2 separate regions of the Homo sapiens genome follow, and region 2 is linked to region 1. Evidence: fine-mapped expression QTL. A gene starts in region 1. The other region holds a variant in brackets. All regions are shown on one strand. Distances are from middle to middle.

Region 1 (4,389 bases):
TTGGGGCCAGGAGTTCAAGACCAGCCTGGCCAACACGGTGAAACCCCGTCTCTACTAAAAATACAAAAATTAGCCAGGCATGGTGGCAGGCACCTGTAGTCCCAGCTACCTGGGAGGCTGAGGCAGGAGAATCACTTGAACCCAGGAGGTGGAGGTTACAGTGAGCTGAGATCACACCACTGCACTCTAGCCTGGGCAACAGAGCAAGACACTGTCTCAAAAAACAAAAAGATAAGGAGACAGAAGCACGGAGAGGACAGATCTCCGCAACTATTTCATAGTAGAGACAGAAGCTGAGCTCGGTTTTGGGGTTCCCCGCATCACACTAGTCCTTACTTTGTTCCCTAAGCATCTGTGCTCTCAGGCATCTGTAAACTGTTTCTGGAAGGATCCACCACAAACTGGCATCCCATGGTTGCCCCAGGTAGGGTAGGAGGCAATGAAAAGGAGTCAGAGGGCCAGGTAGGGTGGCTCATACCTGTAATCCCAGCACTTTGGGAGACCAATGTGGGTGGATCACGTGAGGTCAGGAGTTCAAGACCAGCCTGGCCAACATGGTGAAACTCCGTCTCTACTAAAAAGACAAAAAATTAGCCAGGCGTGGTGGCGCATGCCTGTAATCCCACCTAGTCGGGAGGCTGAGGCAGGAGAATTGCTTGAAGCCGCGAGGCAGAGGTTGTGGTGAGCCAAGATCGTGCCATTGCACTCCAGCCTGGGCGACAAGAGTGAAACTCTGTCTCAAAATAAAAGGAAAGAAAAGGAGTCAGAGGCTCTGGGGTAGGCAGGGAGAATGAGTTTTTTTTTTTCTATGTTTGTTTTTTGAGATGGCCCTGTTGCCAGGCTGGAGTGCAGTAGAGCAATCTCGGCTCACTGCAACCTCTGCCTCATGGGTTCAAGCGATTGTCGTGCCTCAGCCTCTCAAGTGCTGGGACTACAGGCGCCCGCTTATATGCCCAGCTAATTTTTGTAGTTTTGGTAGAGACGGAGTTTCACCATGTTGGCCAGGATGGTCTCAATCTCCTGACCTTGTGATCCGCCCGCCTCAGTCTCCCAAAGTGCTGGGATTACACGCATGAGCCACCGCGCCTGGCCGAGAATGAGTTTTTACCAAGTATCATTTGGTACTTTGGAAAATGTTTTGGAAAGAAAAAAAAAAAGAAGAAGAAGAATCAGAGAGTCCCGTTTGCCCAAGTCGGATCTCAAGGGTGGAATGCAGGAATGAAGCAACATCAGACCCCTCCCTGGTCCATCCAAACCATCTTCCGTTTCCTCTTTGACACAGATGAAGCAAGGCAATGCCTGTGTTACAGCAGGTGCTGAATCGCAGCTCTGCTGGCTCAGTGCCCAGGCCTCCAGACGCAGGGATGACAGGGACCCTCATTTAGCCTGGGGTGCATTCCTTCTGACACTCACAGAATCCATGGCATAACCTGCTTCTGCCACCAACCATGGAGGGTCCCCATCCATCTCTGCTCCTGCCTGGGCCTCAGTTTCCCCATCTCTGTCATGCAGAACATCTCAAACGACCAGGCATAATGGCCTCATGCCAGTAATCCCAGAGCTTTGGGAGACCAAGGTGGGAGGATGGCTTGAGGCCAGGAATTTGAGACCAGCCCTGACAACATAGCAAGAACCCATCTCTACAAGAATAAAAATTTTAAAAATTAGCCGGACATAGTGGTGCATGCCTGTGGTCCCAGATACTCAGGAGGCTAAAGAGGGAGGATCACTTGAGCCCAAGAGTTCAAGACTGCAGTGAGCTATGATGGTGCCACTGCACTCCAGCCTGGGCAACAGTGCAAGACCCCAAGTCGAAAAAGAAAAGAACATCTATCTGCAAGAGCATCTGAGTAACTTGACCATTCCTCCAAACTGGTTCTTTCCAGCCTCCCAACATTTTCTCTGCCATTCCCACTGCCTGGAAGGCCTGTTCTAGATTTCTTCACTTGTGGAATTCTTTAAATAAAAAAAAAAATACAGACAGGGTCTCACTATGTTGGCCAGGCTGGTCTTGAACTCCTGGCCTCAAGCAATCCTCCCGCCTTGGCACAATCCCCAATGTGCTGGGATCACAGGTGTGACCCACTGCGCTCGGCTGCTTGTGGAATTCTTAGTCACCTTACTAGACCCAACTCAAGGGTCCCCTCCCCTGGGGAATCTTCTCGGGCCCCAGCCCCACGAGGTTGCTGTTGCTCCCACAATCTTGACAATCTTATTCCCATGGCCACATCCCAGCCCTGGAGTGTGAGAGCCTGGGATGCAGGAGAGAGGGAAGGTGGGAGGTGGAAGACAGGGAGAGAGAAGGAAAGGGAGAGACAGACAGAGTTGACGGCGAGAGTTGGGGAGAGAGAAGGACCCACTGGAGCAAAGATGGGAGGGACCCAGGACAAAGTTTCCTGCTCCCATTCCCCTTCGAGACTCACCATGTTCTGGTCTCCTGGGCTCCCCGAGGATCGAAGGTCCCTCCTGCCCAAGGGCTGTGGTTTTTAAAGCCCCAAGGGAAGATGCAGGGAGGAAATGACCGTCTTTCTCTCTGGGGCTCTCATTGGTCTGCACACTGGGCACTGAGGCCAGAGCTCCCTCTGCGGGGCACACACCCAGGGGACTCTAACCACCTCCTCCCAGGCAGAGAAGGGGGGCCGGCGCTCGGAAAACCGAGGAAGCTCCTGTGCAGGCTCGGCCCCTCTCCTGGCCTTGGTTTCCCTATTTGGGGCCATCTCTTCTCTCTCATTTTTTTTTTTTTTTTTTTGATAGAGTCTTGCTGTGTCGCCCAGGCTGCAGTGGAGTGGTGCAATCTCGGCTCTCTGTAACCTCTGCCTCCTGGGTTCAAGCACTTCTCCTGCCTCAGCCTCCCGAGTAGCTGGGATTACACGTGTGTGTCACCACCCCCGGCTAATTTTTTGTATTTTTAGTAAAGACGGGGTTTCGCCATGTTGGCCAGGCTGGACTCAAACTCCTGAGCTCAGGCAATCACCCACCTCAACCTCCCAAAGTGCTAGAATTACAAGTGTGAGCCACTGCGCCCGGCCTGGAGCCATCTATCTCTTTCCTCCTAAGACGCCAGCCTTCTGGGCAAAAGCTCAGGAATGCAGTTGGCTTAAACCCCTCCCTTGGGATTCAAGAAAGCAGAGACTGTAACCTCCACTCAGCCTCCCGGCCAGGCTGATTTGAGACCCAAAGAGGCTGAGCTAGTCTGCGGAGGTAGCCCAGCATTTAAGTATATTTTACTGTTAAATCTTCCTTCTAGGGCCAGGTGCAATGGCTCACACCTATAATCCCAGCACTTTGGGAGGCTGAGGCAAATGAATCACTTGAGGTCAGGAGTTCAAGACGAGTCTGGCCAACATGGTGAAACCCTGTCTCTACTAAAAATACAAAAATTACCCAGGTGTGGTGGCAGGTGCCTGTAATCCCAGCTACTTGGGAAGCTGAGGCAGGAGAATTGCTTAAACCTGGGAGGCAGAGGTTGCAGTGAGCCAAGATTGCGCCACTGCACTCCAGCCTGGGCAACAAAGCAAGACTCTGTCTCAAAAAAAAAAAACCATCGTCACCAGCCTGGCCAATATGGTGAAACCCCATCTCTACTAAAAATACAAAAATTAGCCAGGCGTGGTGGTGGGTGCCTGTAATCTCAGCTACTCAGAAGGCTGAGGCAGGAGAATTGCTGGAACCCAGGAGGCGGAGGTTGCAGTGAGCAGAGATTGCACCATTGCACTCCAGCCCAGGCTGACAACACCAAGACTCAATCTCAAAAAAAAAAAAAAGAAAAGAAAAAGAAAAGAAAAGAAAAAAATCATCCTTCTAGGGTTATAAAGTTGGCAATAGAAAATGGAGCTACCCTGTCCCCCAACTACACAAGCCACAACCATCTCCATCTATTATTGTTACATTGTAATATATAATGAAATAATTATACAATTCAACATAATGTAGAATCAGTGGAATCCCTGAGCTTGTTTTCCTGTAACGAGATGGTCCTATCTGGGGGTGATGGGATACAGTGACAGATCATCAGGCATTAGATTCTCATAAGGAGCTTGCAACCCAGATCCCTCACATGCGCTGTTCACAACAGGGTTCATGCTCTTTTTTTTTTTTTTTTTTTTTTTGAGATGGAGTCTCACTCTCTCACCCAGGCTAGAGTGCAGTGGCACGATCTCGGCACACTGCAACCTCCGCCTCCCAGGTTCAAGCGATTCTCCTGCCTCAGCCTCCCGAGTAGCTGGGACTACAGGTGCCTACCACTGCACCCGGCTAATTTTTGTATTTTTAGTAGAGACGTGGTTTCACCATCTTGGCCAGGCTGATCTCGAACTCCTGACCTCGTGATCCACCCGCCTCAGCCTCCCAAAATGCTGGGATTACAGGCTTGAGCCACTGCGCCCGGCC
Region 2 (4,389 bases), 89 kb before region 1:
TAATCCCAGCTACTCAGCAGGCTGAGGCAGGAGAATCACTTGAACCCAGGAGGTGGTAGAGGTTGCAGTGAGCTGAGATCATACCACTGCACTCCAGCCTGGACAACAGAGCGAGATTCCGTCCCCCTCTGCCCCCCGAAAAAAAGAAAGAAAATATCCGCTGAGCAGACGAGTGAATGAACAAAATCTTAGGATAGGCCAGGAGTGGTGGCTCACGCCTGTGATCCCAGCATTTTGGGAGGCAAATCACTTGAGGACACAGCCTGGGCAACATGGTGAAACCCCATCTCTACTGAAATATAAAAATTAGCCGGGCATGGTGGCGGGCGCCTGTAGTCCCAGCTACTTGGCAAACTGAAGCAGGAGAATCCCTTGAACCCAAAAGGTGGAGGTTGCAGTGAGCTGAGATCATGCCACTGCACTCCAGCCTGGGTGACAGAGCGAGACTCCATCTCAAAAAAGGAAGAAAGGGATGAGTGTCACAAAAAGCAGAACAGGCACAGGATGAGAGCATGGGCTGCCACTTTTATGACCTTATGGAGCCCTTCAGTAAGTGCTGTGTCCCAGGCTCTGTTCTAGGAGCCGTATACCTGGGAATCTGTTAAACCCTATGGCAGCCCCAGGAGGTGGGTGCCATCACGGTCCCCATTTCCCAGGTGAGGAAGCAGGACCAGAGAGGTGAAGTGGCTCATCCAAGGTCACACAGCTGGAGATTGTGAGGCTGGGCTCCATTTGAACCCAGGCAGCCTGGCTCCAGGGCCTGGACACTAACCACTGTGCTTCCAGCCTCTCTTTTCTTTTTTTTTTTTTGAGATGGAGTCTCACTGTCTCTCTCACCCAGGCTGGAGTGCAATGGTGTGATCTCAGCTCATTGCAACCTCCACCTCCCAGGTTCAAGTGATTCTTCCACATCAGCCTCCCGAGTAGCTGGAATTACAGACACCCACCATCATGCCCGGCTAATTTTTGTACTTTTGTAGAGATGGGGTTTCGCCATGTTGGCCAGGCTAGTCTCGAACTCCTGACCTCAGGTGATCCGCCGCCTCGGCCTCCCAAAGTGCTGGGATTACAGGCGTGAGCTGCCACGCCCGGCCCCAGCCTCTTTTTCTTAAAATAGAATTCTCTGAAATTCTAATTTTTATTTATTTATTTATTTAATTTTTTTGAGACAAGAGTCTCACTCTGTCGCCCAGGCTGGAATGCAGGGGTGTGATTTCAGCTCACCACAACCTCCTCCTTCCAGGTTCAAGCAATTCTGCTGCCTCAGCCTCCCAAGTAGCTTGGACTACAGGCATGCACCACCAGGCCTGGCTAATTTTTGTAATTTTTAGTGGAGACGGGGTTTTGCTGTGTTGGCCAGGCTGGTCTCGAACTCCTGACCTCAAGTGATCCACCTGCCTCGGCCTCCCAAAGTGCTGGGATTACAGATGTGAGCCACCGTGCCTGGCCTGATTTTTAATTTTTTAAATTGCTTTTGTTTTTGAGATAGGGTCTCCCTCTGTAATCACAGCTCATTGCAGCCTCAAACTCCAACACTCCAGCAATCCTCCTTCCTTAGCCTCCTCAGCAGCCGAGACTACAGGCACAAACCACCATGCCTGGCTAATTATTTATATTTGTTGGTAGAGATGGCTTTTCATGGTGTTCCCAGGCTGGTCTTGAACTCCTGGGTTCAAGCCGTCCAGCCGCCTCGGCCTCCCAAGATGCTGGGAATACTGGCGTGAGCTACCGCACCTGGCCTGATATTGTTTTCGTGACTATGATGAGAGTTTCTCTCTCCCAAAACTCCCCGGGACTCAGGTGGGATGGGTGATGGGTGGACAGCAGGAAGGACTTCAAACAATCACCCTCCCTTGATGGCAGGTGGGGGAAGGAATATGGGGGAGGGGCAGGGCCAGGCCAAGACTTTGAGGTCGGCTGAGAGGGGAGGCAGTTGCTTAGTGTATCCCCTGCCTGGTGCTGGGAAGGGGTCCCAGCGGCTGGTACACTGGGAAGTTGGGGAGGGGACAGCTCTCCTCTTCCCCTCCTCCCCCTTTTCCCAGAATCTGGAAATGCCTCTCATTAACTTAATCATCTCTAATTAAACCAATTGGATGTGCCTGGGGAGAAGGGAAATTGGGTGGGAGGTTAATTGTAACTAAAAATATCTCCCCCACTTCCTGAGAGGAGGAAGCAGCCACTGGACCTGCGTGTATGGTAGGTTGGCATCTCAGAGCAGGAGGGGCCCCTGGTTCAGGGGCATCCTGGGTCGTGGGGTGAGGACCCAGGGGATAGGCAGGCGGGGCTCGGGGGCTGCAGTTGGTGTGTGTCTGACCCCTGTGTGTCCTCTGGGCCTGTGGACTTGGAATGTGGTGGTCGAGGGCAGTGGTTGAGGGATGTCGGTGTGGCTGGAGGCACCGCCCGTGTCCTGTTGCTGAATGTGGTGTGTGTGTCTGTCGCTGAGTGGCGGTGTCCGTCACACGTGCCTTGGTATAGGTTGTGTGTCTCTGTGTAGGTTCCTGACTGTGACGATGAGACTTTTCATGCGCGTCCGTGTGAAGAGACCACCAAACAGGCTTTGTGTGAGCAATAAAGCTGTTTATTTCACCTGGGGGCAGGAGGGCTGAGTCCAAAAAGAGAGTCAGTGAAGGGAGATAAGGGCGGGGC[T/C]GTTTTACAGGATTTGGGTAGGTAAAGGAAAAAGGGGGGTTGTTCTCTGGTGGGCAGGAGTGGGGGGTCACAAGGTACTCAGTGGGGGAGCTTTTGAGCCAGGATGAGCCAGGAGAAGGAATTTCACAAGACAGTGACATCAGTTAAGGCAGGAACAGGCTATTTTCACTTCTTTTGTGGTGGAATGTCATCAGTTAAGGCCGGGTAGGGCATATTCACTTGTTTTGTGATTCTTCAGTTACTTCAGGCCACCTGGGCGTATACGTGCAAGTCACAGGGGATGCGATGGCTTGGCTTGGGCTCAGAGGCCTGACATTCATGCCTTCTTATATTAATAAGAAAAATAAAACAAAATAGTGTTGAAGTGTTGGGGCGGCGAAAATTTTTTTGGGGGGTGGTATGGAGAGAGAATGGGCGATTTCTCGGGGCTGCTTCAAGCGGGATTAGGGGCGGCGTGGGAACCTAGAGTGGGAGAGATTAAGCTGAAGGAAGATTTTGTGGTAAGGGGTGATATTGTGGGGTTGTTAGAAGAAACATTTGTCATTTAGAATTATTGGTGATGGCCTGGGTACAGTTTTGTATGAATTGAAAAACTAAATGGAATAAGAGAAGGAGAAAAACAGGTATAAAATGTCTAAGAATTGGGACGACTCAGGACATCTGATTAGAGAGTGCCTAAGGAGATTCAGCATAGTCCTGCCAGCAAAGATTATTTGTTTACTTCAGGAGTTAAGAGTGGCAGTTTGGGGATAGCACGAGGAGATATCAGCTGTGATGGCTTGGAGAAACAGTGTAAACCGGCAGTGTGAACAAGAGCAGGGCACGTATGAGTAGTTGAGAACGGAGAATAGGAGTATGACTAGACAGAAGATAGTAGGGATGACAAGTTTTTTGGGGGCACAGTCTAAGTTGGTCCGGTGTCTGGAATGAGACTGGGGCCTAATAAAAAGGATTGTCCATACAGGAGCTCAAATAGGCTGTACCCTGCAGCATTCTGAGAAGCGAAAGAGGTAAAAGTATTGTCCAGTCCTTTTTAAGTTGGCGGCTGAGCTTGGTGAGGTGTGTTTTTAAAAGACCTTTAGTCTGTTCTACTTTTCCTGAAGACGGAGGACCGTAAGGGATATAAAGGTTTCACTGAATACTAAGAGCCTGAAAAACTGCTTGGCTGATTTGACTAATAAAGGCTGGTCTGTTATCAGACTGTATAGAGGTGGGAAGGCTAAACTGAGGAATTATGTCTGACAGAAGGGAAGAAATGACTGCGGTGGCCTTCTCAGACCTTGTAGAAAAGGCCTGTACCTATCCAGTGAAAGTGTCTGCCTAGACTAAGAGGTATTTTGGTTTCCTGACTCGGGGCATGTTGAGTAAAGCTAATTTGCCAGTCCTGGGTGGGGGCAAATCCCTGAGCTTGATGTGTAGGGAAGGGAGGGGGCCTGAATAATCCCTGAGGAGTAGTAGAACAGCAGATGGAACACTGAGAAGTGATTTCCTTGAGGACAGATTTCCACGATGGAAAGAAAATGAGAGGTTCTAAGAGGCGGGCTAGTGGCTTGTACTATAGCATAGCCTGCCTTTGCTGGTGTGTGGCGATTAGGCCTGGTGGAACTGCCATCAGTAAATCAAGCGTGATCAGAGTGAGGAACAGGAAAGAAGGAAATATGGGGAAATGGGGTGAATATCAGGTGGATCAGAGAGATACAGTCATGGGGGTCAGGTGTGGTATCAGGAATAATGTGGGAGGCC

The links. PIP is the estimated chance that this variant, and not a neighbour inherited with it, causes the effect.
Region 2: its variant is the best candidate, but not a certain one, in a credible set for the expression of C5AR1 in whole blood (TOPMed, PIP 0.82).

Annotation. Positions count from the first base shown.
Region 1 is chr19:47,307,933-47,312,321 of GRCh38, reverse strand. It overlaps C5AR1 (complement C5a receptor 1), which reads right to left and starts at 2,461. Exons shown (of 2, transcript NM_001736.4): 1 at 2,424-2,461. The coding sequence starts at 2,426.
Region 2 is chr19:47,396,888-47,401,276 of GRCh38, reverse strand. No RefSeq gene overlaps it. Among named protein-coding and RNA genes, the nearest start is that of MEIS3, 20 kb to the left of the region's middle. RefSeq lists an enhancer at 2,452-3,119. The variant T/C (reference allele first, on the strand shown) is at 2,647.